Homo sapiens: one gene and its partner. The protein of the gene in region 1 interacts with the protein of each later gene in a pairwise test. Each region holds a gene or a part of one and is shown on either strand. Other genes may lie near its edges. The genes, in order: FAF2 and UBAC2.

The links.
Region 2: the proteins of FAF2 (region 1) and UBAC2 interact in binary tests that used the Homo sapiens proteins (3 or more experiments, as listed by UniProt).

The regions. Positions count from the first base shown.
Region 1 is NC_000005.10:176,477,785-176,493,988, forward strand, and holds part of FAF2 (FAS-associated factor 2), read left to right. Parts: intron 1-1,403; coding exon 1,404-1,472; intron 1,473-8,570; coding exon 8,571-8,705; intron 8,706-11,166; coding exon 11,167-11,243; intron 11,244-14,409; coding exon 14,410-14,548; intron 14,549-16,204. UniProt on the Homo sapiens protein: Plays an important role in endoplasmic reticulum-associated degradation (ERAD) that mediates ubiquitin-dependent degradation of misfolded endoplasmic reticulum proteins.
Region 2 is NC_000013.11:99,369,650-99,385,853, forward strand, and holds part of UBAC2 (ubiquitin-associated domain-containing protein 2 isoform 1 precursor), read left to right. Parts: intron 1-15,578; coding exon 15,579-15,686; 3' UTR 15,687-16,204. UniProt on the Homo sapiens protein: Restricts trafficking of FAF2 from the endoplasmic reticulum to lipid droplets.

The DNA of each region.
Region 1 (16,204 bases):
CTAAATTCAGAGTTAAAATGTGCCTGTCCGTGGCCATGGGGTGCAGAATTAGGCAAGAACTTCAGTTTTCAGACTCATCAGTCCATACTACTACATTCTTGTCAGGTTGAGATCAGTCTCTTTGCCCTGAAGCTTACTGGTTGTTTAGAGGAGTTTCTTGAGGATAGAGACTACATCTTATTCATTTTCTGTCCCTCCAACATAGTAAGTTAGTGCTGTACAGAATAGGCATGTAGCACACATTTGTCAAATGAAAGGATGGATGGATTAGATGGATGGTTTTGGCTTTTATATTAGACTTTGAAGGAATGCTAGAGTTTAGCTCTGTGGAAATTCTGGGCATGAGATGTATACATGAACTGTTAGATTTGCTGAATATTGGACATCTGAACGGAAATAGTGAGAAAATACTGTAACTGCAGTGGCTCACACCTATAATCCCAGCACTTTGGGAGGCCAAGGCAAGAGGATTGCTTGAGCCCAGGAGTTGGAGACCAGCCTGGGGAATATAGAGAGATCCCGTCTTTACAAAAAACATCCAAAATTTAGCTGGGTGTGGTGGTGCACACCTGCAGTGCCAGCTACTCAGGAGGCTGAGGCGGGAGGATCGCTTCAGTCTGGGAAGTTGAGACTGCAGTGAGCAGTCATTGCGCTATTGCACTCCAAACTGGATGACAGAGCAAGACCCTGTCTCGAAAAAAAAGTGGCGGGGGGTAGGGGGGTCGGTATGTTAGGTTTTACACAGTTCATATTATAAACTAGGTTAATACCAGTATATAAAATGAAATAAGTTAATGAAAGGCATGACGTTTTACAGGAAAGGTGCATTACATCATTATGTAGAGGTTGAGTATTCCTTATCTAAAATGCTTGGAACCACAAGTGTTTCAGATTTGGATTGTTTTGAGAATTTGGAATATTTACGTTTTACTGAATGAGCATCTCAAATCTGAAATGTTCCACTATGCATTTCCTTTGAGACATGTCAGCACTCAAAATGTTTCAAAAAATGTTGGAGCATTTTAGGTTTCAGATTTGGGATGCTCAACCTGTACTATCAACAGAATAGCTGTTTAGCATTAAATAATATTTTGCTTAGCCCACAGGTTGAAAAATCTTTAATTTTTTAAACTTGAATTTGAGAGGAGAATATTGATCTTAGTCAGTACTCCTCTTAATTGAAAGCCTTGAAGTTTTAAAAGGAATTATCATTTTTTTAGTTCTTTACGCATCTAGAACAGTCAGCTGACTGTATAAATTCTGAATCGGTGAAGTTTTACCATACTTTAACACTCACTTTTAACATTTTTTAGTGTATTTTCCTAGCAGTATATGGCGTAAAAATACTCACACGTATACTGTTGGTTTTTCTCTAAGTAACTTGTTTTCATCCTTCTTTTCAGGATCTCACTGGCATCGAATCTATGGATCAGTGTCGCCATACCTTGGAACAGCATAACTGGAACATAGAGGTATAATAGGATGTGTTCTGAGCTTATTTCTTTTTCTCTGGTCTGATTAAGAGTCAAAACCGTATGTTTTTCCATAGCAGGAATCTTTTCAGTAGATTTTTTTCAGAATTATGACTCTAAAAATAAAAGTGCAGGAAGGTAAAGAATGTGAGAAAGTTTATAAAATCATAGAAAAATTTGTGACTAAATCCCTCAATATAGTGCCCCACCCCCTACTGTTTGTTAGTATCTTGTTGGGAAAACAATTGGTTTTTGTATATTTAGTTTTTAACCAGATGTCTTGATGTGAACCTTCTTCTTACATATTTTATAGTTTATTCTTTGGGGTTGTCTAGGTAGTCATGTTCTCTGCAACTCTTCTCCTTGACCATTGAATTAGCAAGAACTTTAAAACACTGTCAGTTGATAATGGTAATAGCATTTTGTCCTCACTATAATGCCTCTGATTTTTTTTTTTTGAGACAAAGTCTCGCTCCGTCTCCCAGGCTAGAGTGCAGTGGCGTGCTCTCAGCTCACTGCAACCTCTGCCTCCCAAGTTCAAGCGATTCTCCTACCTCAGCCCCCTGAGTAGCTGGGATTACAGGCAGACACCACTGCACCCGGCTAATTTGTATTTTTAGTAGAGACGGGGTTTCACCATGTTGCCTAGGCTGGTCTTGAACTCCTGACCTCAGATGATCCGCCCCGCTCAGCCTTCCAAAGTGCTGGGATTACAGGCGTGAGCCACCGCGCCCGGCCATGCCTCTGATTTTTTATTAGCAAGTGTGATGTTAGTTGTTACTTTGAGATAGATCTCCAAGGATGTAAGCTCCCTAAGAGCAGAGATTTTTTTGTTTTGTTTTAACTGCTGTATTCCCAGCATATAACATGGAAATAAATATCTGTTGGTTTTTCCCTTCCATTCTTAGTATATTAATAGTTTATACTGAGTGGATGTTGAATTTTGTCAAAACACCCTCTTGATCCCAAATTACTGTTTTAATTATTATATGCTATTTTAAAAGGGTGCTGGATTCCTAAAAACGTGTTCCCTTTTTTTTTCCAGTTTTTTTTTTTAATAAAATGTATTCCTAATATGATTTCGTTATTCAACACATTTTTGAGCAATTAAACTCTAGGCTCTGGCATTATATTAGTGAACAAAAGTAAGTCCTTACTCTTTTTTAATTTTTTTAAGACGGGGTCTTGCTCTGTCACCTGGGCTGGAATGCATTGGCACAAGCATACCTCACTACAGCCTTTGACTTCTGGGCTCAAGCAATTTTCCTGCCCTAGCCTCCCAAATAGCTGGGACTACAAACATGTAACACCATGCCCAGCTGATTTTTAATTTTTTTGTGGAGACGAGGTCTTGCTGTGTTGCCCAAGCTGGTCTTGAATTCCTGGGCTCAAGCAATCCTCCTGCCTCAGCTTCCCAAAGTACTGGGATTACATGTGTGAGCCACCACATCCAGCCAAGTCCCTACTCTTATGGAACTTAATTCTAGAGAATTTCAGTTTGTAATAAATGACCGGAGGGGAACATCACACACGGGGCCTCTCGGGGGGTGGGGGGCTGGGGGGCTAGGGGAGGGATAGCATTAGGAGAAATACCTAATGTAGATGACGGGTTGATGGGTGCAGCAAACCACCATGGCATGTGTATACCTATGTAACAAACCTGCACATTCCGTACATGTATCCCAGAACTTAAAGTATAATTTAAAAAAATAAATAAATGACAAATGAGATGAGCATAGGAAATGGAACAGAGGATCTGGAGAGTTTTGCTTTTTGTTTTTTTATCTTTATTTATTTTTATTTTTTTGAGATGGAGTTTTGCTCTTGTTGCCCAGGCTGGAGTGCAGTGGTGTGATCTTGGCTCACTGCAACCTCCGCCTCCCGGGTTCAAGCAATTCTCCTGCCTCAGTCTCCTGAGTAGCTGGGATTATAGGTGTGCACCACCACGCCCGGCTAATTTTTTGTATTTTTAGTAGAGACGAGGTTTCACCATATTGGCCAGGCTGGTCTTGATCTCCTGACCTTGTGATCCACCCACCTCCGCCTCCCAAGGTGCTAGGATTACAGGCATGAGCCACCACACCTGGCCTTGTTTTTTTCTTTCTAAGAGACAGGGTTGGGCCGGGCGCGGTGGCTCACGCCTGTAATCCCAGCACTTTGGGAGGCCAAGGCAGGCAGATCACGAGGTCAGGAGAACGAGATCATCCTGGCTAACACAATGAAACCCTGTCTCTACTAAAAATATAAAAAATTAGCCAGGTGTGGTGGTGGGCGCCTGTAGTCCCAGCTACTCGGGAGGCTGAGGCAGGAGAATGACGTGAACTCGGGAGGCAGAGCTTGCAGTGAGCTGAGAACATGCCACTGCACTCCAGCCTGGGGGACAGAGTGAGACTCTGTCTCAAAAAAAAAAAGGGAGAGAGAGAGACAGGGTCTTACTGTGTCACCCAAGCTGGAGTGCAGGTTTGATCATAGCTCACTGCAGTTGAACTCCTGGGCTCAAGCATTCCTCTGACCTCAGCTTCAAGTAGATGGGACTACAGGCCCACGCTACCACACCGGGCCCTAGCGTTCAAGCTCTTGTGTGAATATGTGTTTTCATTTCCTTTGGGTCTATACCTAGGAATGGACTTTGCTGAGTCATATGGTGACACTATGTTTAACCTTTTGAAGAGCTCCCAGACTGTTTTCAAAGTGGTTATACCATTTTAAATTCCCAACAGCGTTGTAGGAAGGTCTGAATTTCTCCACACCCTCACCAACACTTGTTAATATTTGTCTTCTAGATCATACTCACCCTAGTGATCTAGGGTGGTTTTGATTTGCATTTCCCTAGTGGCTAAAATGATGTTGAATATTTTTTCATATTCTTATTGAACATTTGCATATCTTCTTTGCAAAAATGTCTATTCAAGTCCTTTGCCAGTTCTTAAATTTGGTTATCTTTTTCATGTTGAGCTGTGAAAGTTTTTTTTTTTTTTTGAGATGAAGTTTCACTCTGTGGCACAGGCTAGAGTGCAGAGGCGTGATCACGGCTCACTGCAACCTCCACGTCCCAGGTTCAAATAATTTTCCTGCCTCAGCCTCCTGAGTAGCTGGGACTACAGGTGTCCCATGCCCGGCTAATTTTTGTATTTTTAGTAGAGGCGAGGTTTCTCCATGTTGGCCAGGCTGGTGTTGAACTCCTGGCCTCAAGTGATCCACCCGCCTTGGCCTCCCAAATTCCTGGAATTACAGGCGTAAGCACTGCGTCTGGCCAGTTTATGTTTTTTTGAGACAGGATTTCTCTCTGTTGCCCAGGCTGGAGTACAGTGGTACTATTATGGCTAACTGCAGCCTTGACCTCCCAGACTCAAGTGATCCTTTCACTTCAGCCTCCTGAGTAGCTAGGACTACAAGCACACACCACCACATCCAGCTAATATTTTATTTTTTTATTTTTTGTACAGATGGGGTCTCGCTGTATTGACCAGGCTGGTCTTAAACTCCTGGGCTCCAGTGATTCTCCCAGCTTGTCTTCCCAAAGTGTTGGGATTCCAGACGTGAGCCACCATGCCTGGTGCTTATCTGATATTTAATTTGCAAATGTTTTCTCCCTTTCTGCGAGTTATCTTTTTACTCTCTTGATAGTGGTTTGTGGTTTTGTTGTTGTTGTTGTTGTTGTTTGTATTTTTAGTAGTGTTGGCCAGGATGGTCTTGGTCTCTTGACCTTGTGATCCGCCCGCCTCGGCCTCCCAAAGTGCTGGGATTACAGGTGTGAGCCACTGTGCCCGGCCTGTTTTCTTTTTTTTATTTATTTTTATTTATTTTATTTTTTTTGAGAGATGGAGTCTTGGTTTGTTGCCCAGGCTGGAGTGCAGTGGCCTGATCATAGCTCACTGTAACCTTGAAGTCCTGGGCTCAAGAAGCCTTCCTGCCTCAGCCTCCCTGACACCTCAGACTACAGGTACATGCTATCTTGCCGCATTCATGATAGTGTAATTTGATGCAGAAAAGTTTTTCGTTTTGATGAAGTCCAATTTATCTACTTTTTTCTTTTGTCGCGTGTGCTTTTGTTGTCGTATCTAAGATACTTTTGCTTAATCTGAGGTTGGGAAGATTTATACCCTTGTTTTAAGAGTTTTATAATTTCAGCTTTTACATTTAGGTTTTTGATGTATTTGATGTATTTGTAGTTAATTTTTATGTATAGTGTGATCTAGGGGTTAATCCACTTTCTTTTGCATGTGGATATCCAATTATCCCAGCATCATTTGTTGAAAGATTATTCTTTCCTCGTTGAATTGTAAAACTAGGGGACTACCTGATATTAGCCAAATTTCAAAGTTTGAAGCTAGTAATTGAGTTCAGAGGGCACACTGCCCTCCTAAAGACCACCTTCACTTCTGAAACCACCTGCAGTTTCAGAGTGTCGCAAAACCGTCTTCAGATTTGCTAATTCACTAGAACTCACTGAAAGTTGTTATAGTCATGGTTATAGTTTATTATAGGGAACATATAGATTAAAAGCAGCTAAAGGAAGAGACAAATAGGGCAGAGTTGGCCGGGTGTGGTGGCTCACGCCTGTAATCCCAGCCCTTTCGGAGGCCAAGGTGGGTGGATCACGAGGTCGGGAATTTAAGACCATTCTGGCCAACATCGTGAAACCCCATCGCTACTAAAAATACAAAAATTAGCTGTGTGTGGCGGTGCGTGCCTGTAATCCCAGTTACTTGGAGGATGAGGTGGGAGAATTGCTTGAACCTGGGAGGGGGAAGTTGCAGTGAGCCGAGATTGTACCACTGCACTCCAGCCTGGTGACAGAGCTAGACTCCGTCTCAAAAAAAGAAAAAAAAAGAAAAAAAGGGGGCAGAGTCTAAAAGGATTTTGGACATGAAGCTTGCATACTACGCTCCTGCAGAGTCGGGACACATTACCTTCTTGGCATAGATGTATAACAATATGCATGAAGTATAGTAGCCCCCTCCACCCACAGTTTCACATTCTGTGGTTTCAGTTACTAGTAGGCAACTGTGGTTTGAAAATATTAAGTGGAAGATTCCAGAAATAAACAATTCATAAGTTTTAAAATGCATGCTGTTCTGAGAAACATGATGAAATCTCACTCTGTCCCATTCTACCTTACCCGGAACGTGAATTATCCATTTGTCCAGCGTCTCCATACTGTATACAAGACCCACCTGTTAGTCAGTTAGTAGCCGTTATCAGATCAACTGTTGTGCCATTACAGTACTTTTGTTCAGGTTCCCCTATTTTACTTAATATTGGCCCCAAAGCACAGGAGTAGTGATGCTGGCAACTCAGCTATGCTAGAGAGAAGCCAGGAAATGTGTCCTTTAAGTGAAAAGGTTAAAGTTCCTGGCCAGCAGTGGCTCATGCCTGTAATCCCAGCACTTTGGGAGGCCGAGGCAGGTAGATCATGAGGTGAGGAGTTCAAGACCAGCCTGGCCAAGATGGTGAAACCCCGTCTCTACTAAAAATACAAAAATTAGCTGGGCACAGTGGCAGGAGCCTGTAATCCCAGCTACTCGGGAGGCTGAGGCAGGAGAATCGCTTGAACCTGGGGGCGCGGAGGTTGCAGTGAGCTGAGATCATGCCACTGCACTCCAGCCTGGGCAACAGAATAAGACTCCATCTCAAGAAAAAAAAAAAAAAAGGTTAAAGTTCCTGACTTAATGAGGAAATAAAAAAATTATATGCTGAAGTTGCTAAGATCTAGCTTGTGTTTGTGAAATTGTGAAGAAAGAAAAAGAAATTCATAGTAGTTTTATGGTCACACTTCTGCAAAAATTGCAGCCACAGTGCATGATAAGTGCATAGTTAAGATGGAAAAGGCATTTTTTGAGTGGAAGACATGAAGAGAAATAGCTTCCAATGACAGCATTCAAGTTCGGTACTATACATGGTTTCAGGAATCTACTAGAGGTCTTGGAACATATCCCTGTGGATAAGAAGGGACTACTGTATTGCCAACCAGGGAAGCTTCAGTGCTTCCAGAGAATTTATTAGGGCATCATTACATAGGCACGATTGATTTGTTTGGCTGCCCACATGGTTGAACTCAGTCTTCAAGTCAACTGATACCAAGTTGTCCAAAGTTCCCCACCCTAAACCACATGGTTGGTCTTTCTGGCATGGCCGGCTTTCACCCTAAGACTACTGGGTGTTGCAGCTGCAACCTAAAATCTAGTAACAAAGACATGCTTATCAGGTCTGACATAGATTACCTCCCAAAAGGGAAAGATCAGACATCTCTTTGGGTAAGGTCAACTTTTTTTTACTACATTGAGACAAATATCTATTTCAAGGACAGAGTTAAGGAGGGAATGAATTTTTTAAACTGAATATCAGTAGTCTGACAGGAGTTGTATTAGGATCTTTATGTGTGGCCAACTCATTAAATTTTCAGATTAACTCAGAAATATTGTTCCTTTATTTTGCACATGAGGAAACTGAGGCTCATATGTTTTTTTCTTCTTTATTTTTTATTTTTAGAGACAGGGTCTCGTTTCATTGCCCTGGCTGGTCTCGAATTTCTGGTCTCTGGGCTCAAGCAATCCTCTCACCTCAGCCTCCCAAAGTGTTAGGATTACAGGTTTGAGCCACCGCGCCTGACCTGAGGCTCATACATTGAGCAACTTTTCAGAGAGATGGAGCTTGGATCAGACCGAAGTTTCTCTGCTGCAAGCCCCTTCATCAGATGCCACTCATCAGGACTGCTTCACTGCATAACTCCAGGGGTACTGCCTACATTGTATTCTCTGAGGATGGCTTTTCTTGGGATTGTACAGTGAAGCACTTTATATCCCAGCCACCCTAAATAATACATGCCATCTGAATCCAGGCAGTACGCTTGCTGCATAAATGTAGCTTCCAGACAAGTTTCCTCGTCTCCTCTACCATGGATGCATTCTGGAGTGACAACTCCAGTTGCCTCCAAGTACAGCCGGTTAACAGGCCCATGAAGGTGCACTCCTCAGTGACCTTTTGGTGTATTCATGACCATCCTGTTTTGGAATACCACGCAATAGTTGCCTCACCTCTTGTTGTTGGTTGATTTGAGCATCGCTGAAACTCTTGCCACTCCGTTTTCCTTCTCAGGCTGCTGTACAGGACAGATTGAATGAGCAAGAGGGCGTACCTAGTGTTTTCAACCCACCTCCATCACGACCCCTGCAGGTTAATACAGCTGACCACAGGATCTACAGCTATGTTGTCTCAAGACCTCAACCAAGGGCAAGTTATTTCATAGCTGGGATTTCCCCCTTTTTTATTTATAAGTATATCCACTTGGTTATATTGATCTCCCTGTGACAGGAGCAAAACAAATATTTAGAATGTAAACCTGTTAGTTAGACTTGGCCCGTTGGGTGTATTATTTTGCCTTGATTCCTCAAGGAATTGTTACAGAAACTACTCATTTTTTTTTTCTTTTCTTTGCCAGTTATTTGGAGAGTGTTTTCTGCCTCTTAAGTTACAATTTGTTTACTCAAGTTCTTTGTTGCTTCAGTTTACTTAATCTTAAACCAGTTTTGAGGAAGTATATGGAATCTTTGTAGGAGCTTTGGCCACGTCTTTGAAATTAGCCTTGAAGGGCTAGTAGCAAGGAGGTGGTTCACTTAAATTTGACAGACATTTAAGAGTACTCCAATAACCTGGTATCTTGCTACTAGGGATCCAGACATGAATAAAGAGCCAGTCTTCCCATTTCAAATTCAATTTCTCACAGTCTATTGAAGGAAGTCAGATGTGTACACTGATAATGAATTCTAAAGAACTGCTTGGACTTTCTTTTTCTTACCCCTGGGGTTATACTCACCTCTTATACTTTTATACTTGCATTTAGAATCCTAAGAAAACACTCCCTTTAACATTGCAGCAGTTAGAATTTACTCCATCATCAAGCCTTTTTGTGGAGTACTTGATTTTTGTTGTGTTTTGTTCTGTTTGAGACAGGGTCTCACTCTGTCGCCCAGCCTGGAGTGCAGTGGCATGATCTTGGCTCGCTGCAGCCTAGACCTCCCGGGCTCAAGCAGTCCTCCACCTCAGCCTCCTAAGTAGCTGGGACTACAGGTGTGCGCCACCATCCTGGTTAATTTTTGTATTTTTTGTAGAGATGGGGTCTTGCTATGTTGCCCAGGCTGGTCTTGAACTCCTGAGCTCAAGTTATCTGCCCACCTCAGCCTCCCAAAGTGCTGGAATTACAGGCTTGAGGCACTGTGCCTGGCCTACTTGATGTTTTAAAACATGTTTCTAAGTAGTGCTCTGTGGTTTTCTGAAGTACAGTAGCAGATTCCCATGTCAGCCATGGGGCTCCAGAGCTTCCTGGCCACAGACACAGAAAGTGTCTCAGGTTAACACAATGTGACAACTATGAAATGCTTTATAAACTATAGAGCCCTGGATGTATGCTAGTTTTAATAATTAATAACAGCAATAATAATTAGCATTATTACTAAGATAAGCAGCTATATGGGGATTTGTCATTGTGGTTAATATAATTATTTAATGTTTATATACCAATGTCCAAGGTTAGTAATAGTGATTATCTTTCTTGCTATTTCTATATACATTATTTTAGGTTTTTATGTTTGTTTGTTTTGTTTTGGGACAGAATCTCCCTCTGTTGCCCAGGCTGGAGTGCAGTGGTGTGATCTCAGCTCACTGCAACCTCAGCTTCCCAGGTTCAAGCGATTCTCCTGCCTCAGCCTCCTGAGTAGCTGGGATTACAGGCGCCCACCACCGCGTCTGGCTAATTTTTGTATTTTTAGTAGAGACAGGGTTTCACCATGTTGGCCAGGCTGGTCTCAAACTCCTGACCTCAAGTGATCTGCCTGCCTTGGCTTCCCAAATTGCTGGGAGTACAAGTGTGAGCCACCACACCCAGCTAATTTTTGTATTTTTAGTAGAGACAGGGTTTTACCATGTTGACCAGGCTGGTCTCGAACTCCTGACCCCAGGTGATCCATCCGCCTCAGCCTCCCAAAGTGTTGGGATTACAGGCGTGAGCCACCAAGCCTGGCTTATTTCTGTATACCATATTTTGATGTGTAAATCTAAAAAGGAAAGAATGAGTGTGTATCATTTGGGGAACATTAATTTGCAATTGAATTTGACAAGTCTATAAGTAGCTGCCAAAAATAAGTATTAAGGCAGTTTTGGTTTTTATTTGTTTGTTTGTTTTTTTGAGACAGAATCTTGCTCTGCCCCCAGGCTGGAGTTCAGTGGCGCGATCTCAGCTCACTGCAACCTCCGCCTCCTGGGTTTAAGCAATTTTCCTGCCTCAGCCTCCCTGAGTAGCTGGGACTACAGGTGCATGCCACCATGCCTGGCTAATTTTTGTATTTTTAGTAGAGATGGGATTTCACCGTGTTGGCCAGGCTGGTCTCAAACTCCTGACCTCAGGTGATCTGCCCCACTCAGCCTCCCAAAGTGCTGGGATTACAGGCAGGAGATACAGCTCTGGACCTTAAAGCAGATTTAATACAAAAATTCTGCAAAAAAAAATGATAGTAAGATGAAATAAGACCAAAGATGGTGGCACTTAGAAGGATGAGGTGGCCAGGAAGAAGGAACTGTACTTTAGAGGAACAAATCACATGGAAGGACCAAAAAGAGTGAGAAAATCTGACCTAGCCATTTGATAAAATATTAGGGATTGAGAGAATTGTCTCTAACTTTGTTTTTGGACTTTCAGGGGCTGCTTGGATGGGGTTATTACTTGATAATGCTTCCATTCCGGTTTACCTATTACACGATACTTGATATATTTAGGTATGTACCTTTGGATTTATGTATTAGTAGAATAGTAAGACTTTGGAGCTGAAATTTAGGCCAAAATAAGCTTTATGCTCTATCAATGTTGACTTACCAATTTGTCATGAGATGGAATACACTTCCCGAACTGTCTTTTAATACAACATACAAGTATTTTAAATTGTTGAAGCATTGGCAGGCATTGTGAAATGGAATTGTTTTTAAATTAGTCTTACCTTTTGTTTGCAAAAACCAGTCTGACTATATTTATTTGTCTCCCCCTCCCCCCCCCACCATATTTGTCACCTCTACACTTCCTAGTTGATGTCCACACCCTTTCCTTTCTAACCACTATCATCTCCTAGCTTCACACTCCTTAGAACTTTCTTCCTCAACTACTTCTCCTCCACCTGACTACTCACAATCCCAACAAATTCTCTTGCTCTGAGATTACCCAGTTTGCCCTTGATTCCTCCCACAATAGTTGGACCTCCCTAGACACTCCTGTTACACCTTTTCTTTCTTTTTCTTTCTTTTTTTGAAACAGAGTCTTGCTCTGTCGCTGTCACCCAGGCTAGAGTGCAGTGCCACCATCTCGACTCACTGCAACCTTCACCTCCTGGGTTCAAGCGATTCTCATACCTCAGCCTCCCAGATAGCTGGGATTACAAGCATGCGCCACCACGCCTGGCTAATTTTTGTATTTTTAGTAGAGACAGTAGAGATGGAGTCTCATTTTGTTGGCCAGGCTGATCTTGAGCTCCCGGCCTCAAGTGATCCACCTGCCTTGGCCTCCCGAAGTGCTGGGATTGCTGGCATGAGCCACCATGCCTGGCAGCTTCGGTACCTTTTCACTTTGCTCTGGCAGCCCCTAGGTTGCAAACACTGGAACCCTTTTATGTATATACCCACTTGCTTCATACCTTCACCTTTCTTCTAGCTTCCTTCATGTACCATTAAAAGAGCTCATCATTGGAAGCTACAGAGGGTCCAAGGCCAGAAAATGAGTGGGGCTCAACTGGCCGGGCTCTGTGGCTCACGCCTGTAATCCCAGCACTTTGGGAGGCTGAGGTGGGCGGATCACAACGTCAGGAGATCAAGACCATCCTGGCTAATACGGTGAAACCCTGTCTCTACTAAAAATACAAAAAATTAGCCGGGCGCGGTGGCTGGTGCCTGTAGTCCCAACTACTCAGGAGGCTGAGGCAGGAGAATGGCGTGAACCCGGGAGGCGGAGCTTGCAGTGAGCCTAGATCGCACCACTGCACTCCAGCCTGGGTGAGAGAGTGGGACTCCGTCTCAAAAAAAAAAAAAAGAAAAAGAAAAGAAAATGAGTGGGGCACAACTTCTTAGCATGTCAGGCTTGGGTTATCTGGTCCAGAGCCATGTCTAGGCTTTATGGGGAACTTAAATGTTCAAGGGCATCCAGGCCAGCAGATGGAGCTGGGATATGTAGTCTGGGCCTTCCCTGGAAGTACAGGTTCCCTGTACTTCCCTTCAAATATGGGACAGCCTTTACCCTGCCTCTAGGGAGCAGAGGCTGAAGTTGTGGGTCCAGCAGCTGCATAAGTACAAGGGTCAGATAGTACCTTTTATATTGGACCCTTGGTGTTTTATGAGGCTGTCTACTTAATGGCTTTCTTGGTTTAGCAACATTCTTCATGATCACTAATTGCTTAGTACTCTTTCCATCCCCATTTTATTTAAGAATGAACATGTAAAAATCTTTAAAATCATAATGAAAACTAAGTTGACATCTCTGTTTTTTTCTAAAAAATCAAAAAAGCTGATTGTCCTAAATTGTGTAGATCGTGGGAATATTGTGTAATGAGGAAAAAAAAATAAAGGCTTTAAGAGAGAATTCTAAAATGCTTAATTTCAAAGAAAGTAGTTAAAACATCAGTCTTCTGATGAATTTCTAACCATTCCCCCACGTATACAACTTACTACATTTTGTGCTTTTAATTCGCTCTGGAACGTTGTTGTCAATGAATTTGGTTTGATTACTCGGGAGAAATTCCAAGTAGAATTGTATACACAGGGGGAATTTGTTGGGATAATGAATTGACTCACTTTTTGTTAAGGAAAAGTATCACAGTTTAATCACCTTGTCTGTGCTGAAAACGTTTTAAGTAAATGAATATTGTTTGCTTTTCTAGGGAAAATATGCACGGCATGTATTACTAATTTTAATGCAGCTGTATCATCCAACCAGCTTGTTTAATGTTAGGTAACACATTATCCTCTGTCCTGTTGCCTTCTCTGGAAACCCAAAGGATAAATAAATGGTACTATACAAATAGGGTAGGCCCTTTAGAAACAGATGTGTGGTACCATTAGGTATGTATTCTTCACTTTACAAGAGCTGCCAGTACTCCACATCTGCCAGGGTACTGTGGAGCAGTTTTATAACTTCCTCCATGGTTGCCATCAACCATAAATCATCAAGCAAAAGGTACTTGCCCCTTTGAAGAGCAAGTAAGTCATAACCGCAACTTCAGATTTGAAGTTCCTATCCGTAAGTTGAATAGTTTGGGGTTGTGAACTCAATATTTAAAATCCCAGGAAAACAGAAAGGAGAAGGAGGGGCAAGTAGGACAACCAGAAAATGACCTCTGTTCTAGAGCACTGTCCAGTAGAACTCTCTGTGATGATAGAAACGTTCTGTATCTCCGCTGTTCAGTATGAAAGCCATTAAACACGTGGCTGTTGAGCACTTGAAATGTGGCTAGCATTACTAAGGAACTGAATTTTAATTGTATGTAATAGATTTAAATTCAGAATAGCCACATTTGACTAGTGGCTACAGTACTTAGACGGTGCCATTCTAGAGAGTCTGGGTGCATAGCCTGACACATGATCTTTTTGGATACTGTGTCTTCCCTTCCAAACCCTTCTAGCCCTAAATTGTTCTACAAAAAATACTCAGGATTTATGTAGGCCAGTGTTGGAATTTATAATCCCAGTAGTTTGCATTCTTCCTGAACAGGCAATAGAATAACACTTGCTGCTTTATGGCTTTTGAACCAGACTCTACTCTCGGATTTGATGGTCCACTCACAGACTGTTCACCTCCCTTTGTTGCCGTGCCTCTGGCTCTGTTACAGGAATCTGTACAAATTGGCCCACTCGATATGCACTGTAGTAAGCTGGATTCATGTGATATTTATTCCTTCCTCCCCAGGTTTGCTCTTCGTTTTATACGGCCTGACCCTCGCAGCCGGGTCACTGACCCCGTTGGGGACATTGTTTCATTTATGCACTCTTTTGAAGAGAAATATGGGAGGGCACACCCTGTCTTCTACCAGGGAACGTACAGCCAGGTCAGTGCCATAAACCATATAGATGCCAACTTACCGAAATGATTCTATCCTCAAAGGAGAGCACAGCCCAGCACTGATCATGTCCTTCTTGTACTCAAAAACCTTAATTAGCTCTTCACTGCTTATAGGGGTGGGTAATAAAAAAGACCAAACCTTTTAGCTGGCCCCTCTTTGATCTAATGCTGCCCTTCTTTTGAGGTCTTTTCTGCATAACTTATTTTACCATACCCTCAGTTCCAGCTGACTCATTCCCTGAACATAGTCTGTACTTGCCTACCTCTGTGCCTTTGCTTTTGCCGGTCCATCCACGTGGAATGCCTTCCTCACATTTTTGCTAATTGGAATCTTGCCAGTCCTTCAACTAGATTATGTCACGCCCCACTTACAGCTATCCCTGATTGTTGTGCCCTGTCCTGCCCTATCTCATCATCTAGAATACTAATCTTTCCCTTTGTTCTTCCATAGCTTTTAAAAATTGATAGCAATTTTATATTCTTTCCTATATCATTTGTGTTCGTGTCTAATCTCTGCTACCAGACTGAAAGCCCCTTGAAGGCAAAGCCTACATCTTCTTTGATCTCTCACAGAATTGAATAAGGACATAGACCATAGACTCAGGGTAGCACATCTCATTCAACCTCAGCCATGTAGACCTTTGACTCAAGACCTCACCATTCAGGGGAGGAAAAATTAGAGTTCTGTGGGTGTTTGGTATATCTCTAGTTTGCCAGAGAAATACATAGAATTAACACTACAGGAATAGGGAAAACTATGGGAATGCTGTGGCAATAGGCAAAAGGGGGTTCTATTATGCAGCCTCCAGAATTCCTGAATCTATCTGGAGAAAGAAAAATGCTCACCCTTGCTTCCTGCTTTCATTTTCCCACATCTGCTTTTTATCATAGTCAGTCTCCTCGCTGGCTGTTCCCACCACACTCAACAAAAACTGAGCACCTACTGTATGCCAGGCAATGTCCTCAGTGCTAGAGATACAGAGATGAGTGAGATGAGCACCTCCTGTGTACCCTCTCTGCTATGATCCTGAGGGTAGACCACCCTTGACCATGTCAGCAGTCGTACAGTGTAATGTGCTCAGGAGCACGCACATGCAGGAGCACGCACAGGAGTCTTCGGCGCTAGCCTTGTCTTTGAAAGTCTTTTACACCCTATGCTCTTTAGAATGCCTTTGGATCGTACAGTCCATCATTCCTACTCGATATGTGGCCTGGGATCAGGGTTGTCTTCGCAGTTATTTTTTACTTACAAGGATGTTGTAGCTGTGAAGTAGAAAAATTCTCACCTCCCTTTCATATGGTCAGATTCTCCTGTTTTTATCTTCCTTAGACTGTGGGTGCAGCTGACTTTTCTGTGGTTTGTTGGGAACCTGTGTTTGTAAGCCTGTCTACTCTCATGTGTCTGTTAAGTTTGAATCCTAACAACACTAAAACCTTTTCATTAAAGCTTGTTAGCGTGGAGTTTCTATAGGGAGAACAATGCCAGGGGTGTGAAGGTAGGAGCTCAGGAATTTTCTGATTTCTTGCTCACCTTTTTTCCTTATTTTTCCTTTTGTTCCTAAATACATAACTGTATCCATTAGGACCCTTAGCTTAAATATAAGCTCAAGGCACAGTCTTCTTAATAGTGAGTGACCTTCTC
Region 2 (16,204 bases), on another chromosome or scaffold:
TTGAGGAGCGCTTGTAATCTCAAAGTATCCCTCCACAAGTTACTTACTAATTATAAAGGAAAACCGTAATTCTACAGAAGAGAAATTGGACACCACCTTAACCAGGTTATCAAAATTAACATCACCAATTATGGAACAAAGAATTATTATGTTCATATCCTGAAAAGGACCTATCAGTTATGTCCTTGTAACATATGCAGTTACAATCAACATGCATAACTTTGATCGTAAGGGAAAATAAGATAAACTTAATTTGAGGGACATTCTGTAAAATACCTGGTCTATGTTCTTCAAAAATACGATGTTCCAGATTAAAGGAGACTTGGGAGTCATGCTGCCCAAGTGGAAAATGTGATCCTGGACTGGATTTTGTACTGGAGAAAAAATGTCTGATGAAAGGCCATTTTAGGATCAATTGATGAAATTGGACTATGGATTGGATATTGGTATTATATGAATTTTACATTTCCAGGACTTGGTACATACCGACCGTGGTTAGGAAAGAGAATATTCTTGTTCTTAGAAAATACACACTGAAGTATGAAGGAAAACGGCACCATGATGTGTGCAACCTGCTCTCAAATGGCTTAGGAATAATACCTGTGCATGTCAGTACATAGTGTGTGATTGTGTGTATGTGTGACAGAGACAGAGAGAGAAAGCAGCTATGGCCAAATAACAATTGGTGAATCTGGTTAAGGAGGAATCAAGAGTTCCAGGTACTATTCTAGAAACTTTTCTAAGTTTGAAATTATTTCAAACTACAACCTTTTCAAAATCTATAAAAGAAAGTTAAGAGTGTTGCCATCATAATACTTTGAAGTTTCCCTCTGCCTGTTGTTTTTCCCTTTCAGCAAACAAAACAAATTGAGATCAGCATTTCACAGCTGACCACACCATCCACGCCATCGCCTCCCCATTCCCTGTCCCCAGAGTGAACAAATGCCACGCACCTGCCTCTGTAGCAAAACTTTGTCCTCATTTTTCCCAAAACTCAAAAGGTGCCCCTGGGCAGGGATCTCATAGCCACCCATGGGTAAGGCTGTGACAGGTGTTTTCAAGAGAAACCACTGTCACGTGCCCATTGACTTGATCCAGCCCCTCCCGCTTGCCACTTCTCCACTCAGACTGATGGTTTCAGCAGCTCTTCAGGATTAACAGGTGGAGTATGGAGCCACAGTTTTCCTCTTCTACCTCCACTAGAGAATTTCTAGACAAAGGTTATCCCCATGGATAAGAAAAGCCCAATAACCTGCCATGTGTAAAATCTTCCTATAACATGTTTAAAAAATAAGATACTGCTGTCAAGTTCAGCTGAAAAGAAATATCAAAATTCCGTTATGTTACTGTTTACTTGATACAGCAGTGAGTCACATCCCTCATGGGGCAGCCGTTAAGACGAGGTATTTAAAGGTGATATATTTCTCAGTTTGGGCACTTCAGGAAAAAAAAAGTGTCAAAAAGGGAGTGAAAGGAGTATGTGTGTGATTGAAGTCTTCAGGGTTGTTTTTTTTTTTGTTTAATGAGTCATTTTTCCTTGATCATCCCAGAATGACAACAGCGAGGTTACTTCTTGTCAACATCAGTTTAAAACAGTACTTAATTTCTTCCTCGCTCCGTGTTACGAGAAGTTGTAAAAACATGAGGGGTTGTTTTTAACATACACTTTCTTATACATTGATTTTCTAAATCTTGTTTTTGGTGTTTCTTGATTATCCTGCAAATAGCTGTTATAAACCATTGTTGCCTTAAAGATGCAAGGTTCTTACTGGCATTATTCATTCTGCAGGCTCTTGGTGTTCTTTGCAGTGGGTACTATAGAGATTATAAAAGATAAAAAAGATACTGTTGTTGCCCTCAAGATGCTTACAAAAAAGTTTATAAATTTATATTGTATAATCTCTTGGCCAGTTTGTTTAACCACTGTCTAAAATATTTGTTAATAACATGTTAAGATAACTTGAATTAACAAAAGCTTTTTTTGCTTACTTTTTCAATTAAATGTTTGTATTTTCTTCATTTAAATATCAGAGCCACGTAATTTTAATGCATTAAGAAACTTAGTAATTTTTTAAGCCAAGAAAAATAGAAATTATTATTTGAGTTTTTTCTGCTGTAAACAGATACTTTAGGAATTTAGTGAGAGTTCAAGAAAACCTGGTAGACATGAAATGTATGCCATGTACTTTGAAAGCAGAATATTCTAAGAAGAATGTGCATCCTTTAATAAATCCAATAGTAGTTTGATAGCCATAGAAATCTTTTGCCACCTTTTCTACTTTTGCTATTTTTGCTGTTATTAAGATTCAAGATTTTTAGTTCTTCAGAATCCACTCCCGTTTTTTGGTGAGTAAACCCACGGCACCTCTGCCAATTCATCACCCCTCAGAGATGCCACCCCAGCCCCATTTAAGAATATCCCAAGAAGGAGGCTGCTGTGCAGGCAGGCGGTGGGAGGCTGCAGAGTGCCAAGCCACACAGTGCGCCCTGTGCTGCCTGGCCTGCTAGCTAGACAGTCAGGATGGCAACAGCGATCCCCGGAAACCACAAGGCGAGATGTCTGCTCATGCCTTCCCTGTGCAGACGTGCGGGGAGGAAGATCAGAAGAAAACCCCACAAGTTCCTATCAATTTCACAGAACTTTCCAAGTGCTCTTAGAGTTGAAAGATAATGTCTGGGGAAAGAGAAGTCTAAATCTGATGAAAGGACAAAGGTGGATAAAGTAGGCTGTGGGGGGAAAATGAAGGATGATGGACCAGCTAAGGGAGGCAAGGAGAAGGCCCCTAATGCCCCCCAAAGACCACTGCCTGTTCTGTTCAGGATCCCCAGCATCAAATCCATAGACCCTGGGATTGCTTTTGGAGATGGGTAGACAAGCTTGGTGAGCTGTGGAATCAGTGACCGTGAGAAGCAGCCTTAGGACACCAAGGTGGGGAAGCTGCTGGAGAAAGACAGGTGGCGTCACCGGCTCTGAGTCTAAAGGGAAAATGGGTGGCAAGAAGGTCCTGCCAGGGTTGCCCAGAGAAAGGTAGACAAGAAAGAGGAGGAGGAGGAAGAAGAAGATAAATAGAAACTGTTTGTCAACAACAACAGCAAAAATGCCAAGCCAAAGACCACTTGATAAAACTCCTTCGAGTAATCAAATACGCTCAATGTCTGCTATCTTAGAAATAAGTGTATCCAGGCCGGGCGCGGTGGCCCACACCTGTGATCCCAGCACTTTGGGAGGCTGAGGCGGACGGATCACGAGGTCAGGAGATCGAGACCATCCCGGCTAGCATGGTGAAACCCTGTCCCTACTAAAAAATAAAAAAATAAAAATTAGCCGGGCATGGTGACGGGCGCCTGTAGTCCCACCTACTTGGGAGGCTGAGGACAGGAGAATGGTGTGAACCCGAGAGGCAGAGCTTGCAGTGAGCTGAGATCACGCCACTGCACTCCAGCCTGGGTGACAGAGCAAGACTCTGTCTCAAAATAATAATAATAAGTATATCCATTATTCCATCTCTCTCTTTTTTATTGTTTTTTTTTTTTTTTTTAAACAGGTATCTTTATACTACTATGACCCATACTCAAAATTAACAAATGATTAAATTTTTCTCATATTTGCTTCTGATTTTTTTAAAACCAAAGGGGGAAAAACTCATCAAGTGTATCTCTTCTGACCCTCCCAAAGCTTAGAAAATGACTGTTAGGTAAAATCAGACAAGAAAGTTAAATAAGACTAGACCAAAGCTGGGATTTAACAAAAGGAAGATGAGCAAATTTCAGCTTCCTCTCTTCGATTCATGTCTTTCTTTCCTTTAGCTGACAGTGACCAGCTGTCTGCTCTGCACCGGGGCTAAGCGCTGTGCTGAATTCTGAAAACACTAAGATGGATAAGGCGGAATGTCCTGCCCTGAGGAGCTGTGAGCCCAGGGCAGGGAAACAGGTGGACAAAGAGCTTGTGGAAGTGTTCGGGTGCTGCTGAGGCCAAGAAAGGCCGTCAGGGCAGTGGTGTTGCAGAGGAGGGGCCTGAAGACAAGTACATGGGAGGTGGGGAGCCACGGATGGGTGGGCTGGAGTAGAGGGGACTGGAGGGCCGGGGCACTTCTTGGGATTCTAGAAGCTGGACAGAAAGGAGGCCAGACAGGCTCGCCAAGGGTCTGATGTGTGGCATGTGGTTATACTCTAGACACCAAGGAACCATGCGGGATCTTACACAAGAAACACCATCATTGGGTTTCCCAAGAGGATGGACTGGACACAGAGGAGGGGGCAGGTTATAATCTTATAATTTTCTCTATCCAGGCCCAGGAAACATGGTGCAACTGCCCAGACAAGAGATGTTACCATTTGGTGCATTAATATTAATAATACATTTATAATGCATGTCAAACGACAGAATTACAGCAAATTTAGTGACAGATCTATTTGGCTTTTATTTGCAACTTATGAATTAGTGCAGCCTCCATTCTACAAAACAGAATGTGAGCTCCCGCCAGGCAGTACTGGAACAGTGCATTTTGTAAGAAGGAAACAGAGCAATAGAAAAATAACTGATAGGTTAACATTGAGTTACTTCAGGTTGCTTTTTTTTTAAGGGTTAAAGCAGAGGGGAGTTCCTTATTATGCTGACTTGTGTAGTCTGGGATCTCCTATTTTTAGAAAAAGCAGGTCTTCTTGTTTTGGGATCTGTCTGCTTCCTTAAAGTTTCAATTTGATTGTGTGGCATTTAGCATGAGTGACTCCATTTAGTTTGGTCTTCTGGTTTGTTGGAGCCCAAAACAATGGCGTCCCATAATTTTGGTCAATTCACATGACACGTCGTGTGGATTCTGTTTATGTCTCTGAGATATCCATTAGCCCAAGTAGAGAGAATGGCTTTAAACCCACAAGGTGCTTTCACTCTTAGCTGATAAATAGCAAAATGTATTTAGTATTAGAGAATCTAAATCTTAATGAGGCTGTCTCCTCTCTTCTCATCTCAGGAATCCTTACCACTGTCTCCAGAAAACCCACCGAAACTCCTAAAATGCTCACCTTCTGAAAGCAGGGCTCTAATATTTATTGGTTTTGAGACACATCTCGTGCTTCTGCTCTGAGTAGCCAAGCATGGCAGCACATTGGGTATTGGGTTAGCCTCCCATGGCGTCTGGTCTCCCTGTGGACAGCGAGCTTCCTGAGGGCTGGGGCCATGTCTGCCTTGTTTGCTACCCTATGAAAAGCCTGATACACACAGGTGCCCCAGCATCGGTCGGAGAAGGGTTGAACACGAAGGTGTGGCCAGTAAACTTCCCTTTCAGAACTCTTGTTTTCACATAAAAAATGTGCTAGAGAGTGGTATTATGCCAGGTTTTTCCATTGCTTGCTCTAGTAGATTGGAAATACGTTTTCTAACAAGATCCCAAAGTTAGATGTGTTACAATGAAATACTAGATGGTACTCAAATAGTAACCAACTTTTGTGGGGTGTCTCATTCTGCTGGGTGCTCTGAGAGATGTACACAAAGGAGCTCAGCCAGCCTTAACTAAAGACCTGCTCCATACAAGACCCTGACGAGGCTCTAGACACAGTTGGTCTCAGAGCAGCCCAGAACGCTGGCAGGGTCTGTAATAACCAGAAACCTGAGTTCAACCAAGAGATGTGAAAGGAGGGGGGATCTGCAGTTCTCCCAAGGAAGAGAGTGGTCAGACAGGGAGAGGGGGGTGGGGGCTGCACTGCCTTGCAAGGGTCTCGGCCATGCGTCAGCATGGGGGTGGGCAGCTGGTGCCAACAGGTAACCGGTGCCAGTTGCTATGACAGCAGTGGGCGAGGCAGGCCCAGCACATCTGGGCTCCCCCAACAGGGTGTGCATGCTACCCTGCACCCAGTGTGAGCTCAGGATCGGGTGGGGGCCGTCTTCAGGTGGGCATCGCTTTCTGCAAGCGTCAGAATATGGGAAGTAAAAACCCAAAAAAAACATTTGTTTTTGACGCACTTAGCTAAAAGGGAAGTTAAAGAAAACCACACTCTAGTTTGAATAAACCAAAAGGAGTCTTTCACTGAGGGGAGTTGCTAGAAATCTCATTGGAATGAATGTCCCATTTTACTTATGTCAAAGAGGAGTTGAATTGCAAGTAAAATACCAAAGTGGGATTTCATTTATTTTCTTTTCTCTTTTCCTTTTTCCCTTTTTTTTTTTTTTTTTTTTGAGACATGGTCTTGCTCTGTATCCCAAGCTGGAGTGCAGTGGTGCTATCATGGCTCACCGCAACCTCGACCTCCTGGGTTCAAGCCATCCTCCCAACTCTGCCTCCTGAGTAACTGGGACTACAGGCACATGCCACCAAGCCCAGCTAATTTTTTTTTTTTTTTTTTTTGGTAGAGACAAGGGTTGCCCAGGCTGGCATTTTCTTAAATGAGAATTATCTTGAGGTAGTAGGCACACACATCCCAATCATAGATGTTTAAAAATAAAAAATAAGGAAAGAGAAACTGGTACAGATTTATTTCCATCTCTAGGGTGTTTTCCTCATTCAGTGGGTTCTCTGAAAAGCACATTATTAGGGAATGTATTCCATCTTGCTCTCCTTTGGAACATTGTCAGGTGACAGTGACAGTGCTCTTGTGGCAACGCCTATTTCTGTCATGCTCCCCTGCCTTGGTCAGCCAGCCATGTGGAAGTGTCACACCAGGGCTGGTGAAGGGCTGCTGACGCCTGTGGTTCAGAAGCTCGTGACGAAAGGCAACTGATGGAGTCACACCTTGCTCCACTGGGGCACCCTGGACACCTCCAAGAGGGTCTTCATCCCTGTGGGGGCTCTGGTGGGGCACCCTGGACACCTCCAGAGTGGGTCTTCATCCCCGTGAGGGCGGAGCTGGAGTTTGCCATTGCCACAGCACCAGCTGCACCTTGGTGTCCTCTGAGTAGCCTTATCTCTGCTCCTCACCTCTGGAAGTCAGGTTTCCTGTTACGGAAAGCAGGCTCTGGATGTTACATTTGGGGAATGTTAGTGTCTAGAAATAAGAAATAAGTAGATGTGGAAGACAGGAAAGCAAAGCATGCTGGAGGCGAACCCAACTAGAGCTGGCTTCTCAATGAAGTTAGAGGAAGGAATCATTTCGATTTGGGGGCTAGAAACCAAGCTGCACTCTAATCTGATATTTTGTGGTGAGGATTTTTAGGCAGAAACTTCTTGTGATGCCTGAGCAGGAGGAAGGTACTCGCTGTGCTCTGAGATGGAGAGGGAATGTTGAAAGAACACCTTTTTAGAAAATTTCTTTGAGACATTTTTAAAATTTTCCAGACCAATGAATGACTGCAAGCCCATGAAGCCAACACTGACGAAGTTGCAGTATGCAGCGCCGTGCCTCGCCTCGCCTCGCCTCACCATTGCCTCCACTCACGCCAGAACAAGTGTCTATCCTAGCACAGTCTTTTCCAGAGTCTCAGTGTCCTACCAGCATTCTCATTTTGTCCTCCACATGTTTATTGGTCACTTTTGATCTTCACATTCAGCCTTCTCTAACTGGTGCTGGGCACCGGGTGTGTCAGGCTCTGTGTTGGGGGGAAGCAAGCCAGGCCTGGTGCCAGCCCTCAAGGGAGCTCACCGTCTATGAGGGAGACCAGATCCATGCAAGGCCCTAACCCAGTACCCAACTCATGCAAGTACCTAGTGCCAGTCCTTAGAGCAGAGGAGACCTGTAAACATTCATTCCTGTACTTTAACAACTTGACATCAGGAGATTTTACATTGAAACTTTCTCTTCCTGTGGATGTTAGATCGGATCAGGTGCTCATGGTGAGTTCTGATGCTTCTCATCCCAGTAGCTGGACTACAGAGACAGGAAGCAGCCTGCAGAGAAAATGAAGTAGTCCAGGGTTTCAGTGTGAGTTAATGTGTGTTGTGGCTAAAATGTGGTGCTTTCGATAGGGAGAGAGATGGGCTGACCATCTATAATACCATTATTTATATAGTCATCAGAGTTGTGTATTTGCTAAACTTTATAAATACATAAAGTGTATTTTAGAACAACACAGTCTTTTTGTTAGAATGTTATGCTCACCATTTAAAAAGATTGTTCCTGTCTTTCTGACTTCTTTAGGGCCCACCACACACCTGGCCCCGCTGCCCTCCATAGGAGAATAGTGGTCCTGAGAGGTCATGTTTATTGAGCGCTGGTCATGTGCCCGTCACTGTTCTGGGCTTCTCACATGCATCCCTCTCATCTCCCAAACTGCGAGGAAACAGAGAGTCAGAGCCTGGTCCCCTGCATGTGGTCACACGGGGCCAACTCCAAAGCTCGGGTCTCCCTGCCACCCTGCGCTGGAGTCAGACCTAAGACAGCATGCAGCTTCCCCTGCATTTTTATTTCACGGAAGCATGAACCTGGTTTTCTGTCCCTACAAGTTGAGTATCCCTTATCCAAAATGCATGCTGCTCTAGTCCTTCAGTAAGCCCATCACATATTTTCTCTGTGTCGTCTGTAGACACTTTTTCTGCAGCGTTAGCATCATCTCCATCATCACTGTTGTCACAGTCACCTTGACTCAGAACCATCTCAGCTATTTCACCATGGGTCAGTTAATGAACAGCTGGAGCCCCCTTATCGATATTAAAAACTTCAATATCTGGCTGGGCTCAGTGGCTCATGCCTGTAATTCCAGCAAGTTGGGAGGCCGAGGTGGGCAGATCACTTGAGGTCAGGAGTTCGAGACCAGCCTGGCCAACATAGTGAAACCCCATCTCTACTAAAAACACAAAAATTAGCCAGGCATGGTGGCACATGCCTGTAGTCCCAGCTACTTGGGAGGCTGAGGCAGGAGAATGGCTTGAACCCAGGAGGTGGAGGTTGCAGTGAGCCGAGATCACATCACTGCACTCCAACCTGGGTGACTGAGCAAGACTCTGTCTCAAAAATAAAATAAAAAATAAAAACTTCAATATCCACTTCTTCTGGCTTACTGACAGACTCGAAGGTATATTTTTTACCTGTTAGGAGGTCAGGCATCATTTTATCCTCATTTGACATGTGGAATCCTTCAAAGTCACCACCTTGTTCGTCATCATCACTGAACATAGCACAGGCCAGAGGTTGTGTCAGGCTTGCATAGCTGTGTTCTCAGTCACTGTGTTCCATGCATTGGCAACAGCATGTGTGGCATCCTTCACGCTAAACGCCTGTTGAAAATCTTCCATACCCATTCATTTGTTGCTAGCATGTTGTTCAAGAAGGTACTTTTATATTTATCCTTCATTGATCTAAGAATACCTTGGCCACATGGCTGAATTAATGGAGTCACATTTGGGGAAAAGTACATGGCATAAACATGATTTTTGATGAGATGTCAGCTGGAGGATGAACAGAAAAGTTGTCAAGGTATAACAAAATATTTCAGTCATCATCCAGCCCAGCTTCCCTGCAGTGAGCACAAGCCACAGGTCCAAAATGTTTGTGAGACCAATCAGAAAAGATATCCCTAGTTAAACATGCCTTTTTGTTAGCATAATAATGGTCTGGTAAGAAATTCGCTGCTTGAAAACAGCAAGGACACAAACTTTTGCCTGTCATGCAAGTTTACGCTTATGCATGCCTGCTGCATTAGCACATCCCAGCAAAGTTGTTCTGCCCTTGATGTCCTCAGTTCCTGGAGGGGCTGTCTCATTAGCTGTAGTTGTGTCTTTCTGGAGCAATAAAACCAAAACAGTGATGTTCCATCAGCATTATAGACTTGTTCTGGCATCAGATTTTTGTCAGCAATGACCTTGGCAAACTCACCAATGAATTTCTTTGCTGCTTCATGATGCTTTGTCACCACATTAAAAAATTTGGTTTCATGTTTTTTCTTAAATTTCTGCAGCCAACATGTTGAATATTCATAGTTCCTTTTCATTTTCAGTTCCTCATCCTGATAGATCCTTGCTTGTTTCCTGACCCACATAGCATTAAGTGGCAGGTGTTCACTGCAACACCAAGGGATCCATCCTCGGTACATGATCAGGATCTTCATTTTTAGCTTTATGCAGTGTTTCTCTATTTTTCATTAATTTCTGTTTATCACTTTTAGCACAGAACTTCAACAGTTTATCCTTCTGTTTCTTCAGATCCTATATGGTGGTCACTCCAACACCATACTCTCCTGTAAGACGTTTCACACTTACACTGCTCTCCACTTTCTCCAACAGCTTGACTTTCTGTGCTATAGATAAACATAAATCTTTTTCTTATCACTGTTACCCAGAGGGTATCTGCACACCTTTTAGATATTTTAACAACATTTTTATAACACAGAGCAGAAAGTAAGCAAAAAAGCACAGTGAGTGACGCACGTGGGTTTTGGCCCCATGCAGGTCATTGTGGGGAACCTGCCCACTGGCATGTGCTTGCGTGGGGGAGTCGGGGCATGTGCAGAAAAGGCATGTCACAGCTGAAGGAGGGTGAGAGGGTCTCTTTTCCCTTGGAGACACTGAATAAACTACATGTTGTGGCCTGCATTTTGACTGCAGCCCATCACATGAGGTCAGGTGTGGAACTTGCCATTTGTACTGCCATGTTGGTACTCAAAAAGTTTCAAATTCTGGAGCATTTTCGATTTTGAATTTTCAGATTAGGAATGCTTAACGTGTGTTTTGCTTACCTGACTGCACGTCTGCGCAGGCCTCAATTTCGTCTTTCTGTAATTTGAGCACAGGAGTTGATGCTTCACATGCCGAGTAAGCTTTCCCAGGAGAGACCGTAATGAGATGTGTGGGGACTGGGCGTGCTGGGCTTCTCTGAGCAGAGGAATAGTGAGAGCCACAGCAGTAATTGTTAGTGTCCACCAAAGAGCCCTACAGACAACTGTTCTCTGTGCTGCTAGTTTTTGCTCCAGTTCTTACTGTCTATATGGTGAACCTCTGAAACTACATAAAGAAAGGACAGCAGGGGCCACTTGGCTAACTTGCACGGCTGTGAGCACTGCACTGCACCCCTCCACTGGGGAGTATTGGGTAAGCACCCATCGGAACACCTATCCCCTGACCCTTCTCGTCCTTGCTGGCTGGTTGTCATCGCATACCCAAGCCCAAGCATGCAGTTTCAGTTTGCCATGGATGTTTAGTTTTGGACACTATGGGAAACCTTCAGGTGCCCTTTCTTAGTGTAATTGTTTATTCTTTTTAAAGAACTGTGCTAACATTATTGCTACTTAGCAATAGTTTTTAATCTGGTGAAAATAACAGGTCAGTGGGCAGTGAAAGTTCTCCTGTCACACTTGTCTTCTCACCCATAAAAATCACTTAAAGCTCTGAAGCCAGCTTTGGCTAAAGGGGCATGATCTGCCCCGCAGAGGATGAAGAGCGAGCCCGCTGCAAGCTGTGACAGCAGACGCTCTCTTCTGCCAAGACCTGTGAAAAGCCAGTCTTAGTTGTCAAAACCAGCACCGCGGCACATGTCGTTCATGTCTGAGAGAATGAACTCAGAAGGAAGTCTCGTGTACATAGAAAGCTTTCGTTCTTACTCTAGGATGTCACCTACGTGACTTACAACCCAGCCCAGCCATCCCAGACCTAAGGGGTTCTTCCCTCTCCAGGGCAGGGCCTGCATGCAGTCCATGCTGCTGCCCTGTGTTGGTGACCTGTGTGTAGCCAGCCCATTATCAGCATCCTGTGGATTCCAAACCAAATGTATCATCAGTGGAGGGAGAGCTCAAGTGCCAGGTGGAGCTGTGGCCTAAAGTCACACTTCATCACTCCAGATTATGAATCGTCATTTGCCAGATCTCCAAATTGCTGAGTGTGGACAGCAAATGGATTCGTTTGTGCTGGCTGGGTGCAAAGAAGCAGCCAGTCCTCAGCTGCACTTGAAGTACTACAGGTAGTAGTAAAGGTAGCTTTTCCAAGCCGTTTAAATAAACGTCATTAAGAGTGGCCAAGTTGTTTGGGGGCCATGGCATCATGGTGGTGGATAGTAGGTGGAAGGAAGGCAGGCCAGCTCCCGTTTGGCCTGAGTTATCTCCACCAATGACAATGGTCCTTAACTGGAGGGAACATCATACAGGTTATTTCCACCCAAGATTGGAAAGACCACCTTGATCAGAGAGAGTTTTCCTTCCACATGACACATATCCAGCCTGAGTCCTCCAGCCCCTCTCCCTGCACAACCTGATGGAGGCTTGAGAAAGCACAGGGAGGAACACTTAGCTTGAAAATGTTCCTAAGGAAAAGGAAAGTGTGAATTCTGAGAACCAAGTGGCAGAATTGAAGTTTCACATCTGGCAAAAGCTTAAACAGATTATTATCAAATAGATGGTTTGTGAACGTTGAAAAGACAGCTGTGGTCTAGGACACCAAACCAATCCTGTTGGCAAGAGATCACCAAGACCTTTGACAACATCTCATCAGCTTATGAGAGATGTTGGTGACATGCAGAATGGATAATGATAGTGCAATGAAGTGGGTTTGAAACTGATTAAAAATGTTGATTAACCCCTTGAACACAGAGTTCTGGGCTCTTTGACCTGACGTGTTTGACATTTTCATCAATAATAACTTGAACAAAGTTGTAGAGGTTTACTAATCAAATTTAGGCATGATACAAGTTTGAGGGAGATGATTAACAGTAGATAACAAAATGAGAATTGAAAATAATTCATTTTGGTTGACTGGAAAATGATCAGATGGAATTTAACAGAGATATGTAGAGTCCTAGACTTAAAAGGTCAGGTAGGATTTGAGAGACCTGACTTGACAGCATTTTATGTGAAAATTCCTGAGTGTTTTCAGCAGGCCCAGCTTAACTGGCCACACCAGTGATGCAGCTCCTTACACAAGTGCATGCACAGGCACACACAACACATATGCACACTACTAATGCATTCCTCTGCTCTCATTGAAGCTAAGGGCCCAGACTGTTGGAGGGCAGTGGCCTCACTGCCCTGGTGAGACCACACCCGTGGTGTCACACTCAGTTCTGGGCGCGGTGTTCTGAGACGGTGTGCACAAATGGGAGGGGATGGGCTGAAAGGAACTGGATCCTGAAACACAGGAATGAGCAAAGGCAGCCACAGCCCTCATACTGGGAGTTCACAGTGGTGGGGAGAAGCTATCACCCCACAGACACAGCTGCAGGGAGCCCAGGACAGAAGGCAGTGGGGCAATGAGGACTTCGCTCTGGGGGCCTTCTAGTCTGGGAGACATGGAAAAAGGCAGGGGCCCCAAGACCCACCAGGGGAAGAGGAGTCATCAGGCTCAGGGCAGAGGGCAGAGACAGCAACACAGCAGAACAAGCCACGGTACCCACAGGCCTGGGTGGGGGCCGAGAAAAGCCAGTGGGTTGAGGGAGGAAGGAGAGGGCTGTCACACCCGCAAAGTGCTTTATGTAGGAAAAGAGAATAGGGTTGTTCTCGGTTACTTCAAAGGGCAAAATCAAGAGCTGTGGCATTGTGTGGATGGCAGCTTGTGAGGGGCAGAACACCAGGGTGGCAGCATTCTCAGCCACCTGGCAGTGAGGCCAGGGCACTCAGCCACAGCTGATGTGCATATGATGCATTAGTAGTGTGCATGTGTGTGTGTGTGCCTGTGCACGCTCTTGTGTAAGGAGCTGCATCACTGGTGTGGCCAGTTAAGCTGGGCCTGCTGAAAACACTCAGGAATTTTCACATAAAATGCTCTCGAGTCAGGTCTCTCAAATCCTGCCTGACCTTTTAAGTCTAGGACAGTACATATCTCTGTTAAATTCCATCTGATCATTTTCCAGCCAACCAAATGAATTCTTTTCAATTCTAGTTTTGTTAGCTACTGTTTTTTGTTTTTTGTTTTTTTTATCTACGACACTCTCTCCTCTGGTGGGAAAACAAACTAGAAGGTTTCTGCCTTTGCTCTACGCTGTCCACCAGCCCTGGGCAGCTGAGCATGAATCACCTGAGGGCGCCATAGTGTCCCAGGTGCTGGGCATCTTGCTGCTCCAGGACAGCCCTCCCCACCGCAAGGCATTTGGAAGACACCTGGCAGCCCTTCTTGGCTTCCTAGCCAGGGCTGTGCGTCAGTCCCCGTGCTAAGGGTTGAAAGCAACGTTCCGGGGAGGAGCACGCTCACTGCGTGCATTTGTAAGCCTAGTCCTCACCCACTGAGTGGTCCCATGACATGGGCGGCACCCCCCGTTTGGAAAAGCCCTGGCTGGACTCCAGCTTCTGAGCAGTGTCCACTGCGTGTCCCTGTTGGCCCTCAACTCTTCCCTAAGGCTTTTGGGGGAGGAGGGTCTGGGTGTCTGGGCCTGGGTGGTCACTGGGAGGTTCCCTCCCCCACCTGCCTCTCTACTCTCTGCACCTTCTTCCTCACCTTGCTGAGTCCTTAGGTTAATTTTGCTCAGAATATCCAGAGTTAGCCACTAGGCTGCGGGTGAAGTGGGATAGAGAGGAAGAACAGCAGGCTTTCTGGAGCCACATGCCCAGGCCCATGCCCGGCCCCTCCTCCAGCCACCCCATGCCATAGTCCCCATTCACACCCACTGAGTCCCCTGAGCAGAGGAAGGGGTGGTGATACTGGGCCCCTTCTCTTTCCACCATGTAGCACCAAGTAGCTCGCTCTCTTTCGGAAAGAAAAATTGGAAACTCTGACTAAGTCCTCAGGTGAACCCACAAAAGCCTCTTTAATGCGCAAGTGGCTAAAAAACTCAACATGTACAAGACTGTTGACTTTGATGAGGTGTTACTGCAAGTGCAGTTTATTTTAATATAAGTACAAAAAAAATGTATTCCTGTGGCAATCTGGGGCCATGAATATTTTTGTAATATATTCTTAATTGGGAAAAAAGGTTGCAAATAAGCTTTAGTAACATTGCCAATTTCAATACTGGAGACTGCCTGTAGAGAAAAGTACAGGAAATCTCCGTATTCACAGAATCAGGATTTGTGGTCAAAAACAATGCATGCTTGTTCCTCCCTGCTTCTGGTGGCTTTCACTGCCTCCTTCCTCAGTTGCTGCCCCAGGCTCAGCCCCACTTTGCTGCCTGCGTAAGCCCCAGGCTGCAAGTGGCACAGCTGTCAAAGTAGTCTGAGCACCCAAAGGCAGGCAGTTCTGTGGCAGTGACGCCAGGAGTGCGATGCCAGGGCCGAGCATGGCAGTGACGCCAGGAGTGTGATGCCAGGGCTGAGCGTGGCAGTGACGCCAGGAGTGTGATGCCAGGGCTGAGCGTGGCAGTGACGCCAGGAGTGTGATGCCAGGGCCGAGCGTGGCAGTGATGCCAGGAGTGCGATGCCAGGGCTGAGCATGGGTCACCACCATAGGGAATCAAACGACGCTGAGTCGTGTGTCCTCGCAGTGAGCCTGGGCAGCTCATGCCGACCTGCTTCCAAGGCCTGGTCCCAGTAGGCCACTTTACCCTCAGAAGCCCTGTGTCCTTGTCTGTAGAATGAGGGTTATGTGCGATCATGCATATATATTGGCTACACATAGTGAACATTGAAAAATTTGTACCTGGTATAACTTTTAAGTATCAGATTCCATATTGAAATGAAAATTGGTTTTTTTGTAAACAGTTTTGACCTTTGCCACAAGGCTCACATGAAGAACATTTGGGGCCCAGGGATAAGCGGCAATGTCAGCGCCCTCAGGTTTCTGCGTTTTCTCTGCCTGCAGGTCGCCCGGCTCATGGAGATGGGATTTTCCAGAGGTGATGCTTTGGAAGCCCTGAGAGCTTCAAACAATGACCTCAATGTCGCCACCAACTTCCTGCTGCAGCACTGATAGTCCCAGGCCAACACTGGGACCGGACCGGCAGCCGAGTGACAGTGCGTGGTCCCCACCATCAGATCAGCCCGGGGACCGAGCATCTCTGGTGCTGATGTTCTTGTGGGAAGAGGGAGGTTCCACCGCACCCCTGCCCTCAACCGCAAGACTGTTGCCGTTTTAGTGTGGAGATAAGTTTGCCATTACATTAGCATGTATTTTCTATCTATATTTTTTATTGGGCATTTTCCCTAGGTTGGAGAGTCAGCACTCGTTTTGAATGTGTTTAAAATGCATTAAAATGGAAGATTTCTGCAGGCAGTTGAATGGCACTCCAGATGGGGAATTGCTGTAACCCTCTTACTGTAACATGTCATCTCCTGCGTCGTGATGGGGAGAGGGTAATGTTACTTCACAAAGGACATGTCAGATCCTTCTTCATGGACTTTTTTAGTTACTGTTTTTTCTCTCAAACTTGTTTTCGAATCTCCTGGGAGTGAGGGAGAAACAGGGAGCTGAATCCTCCCCCAAGCTGT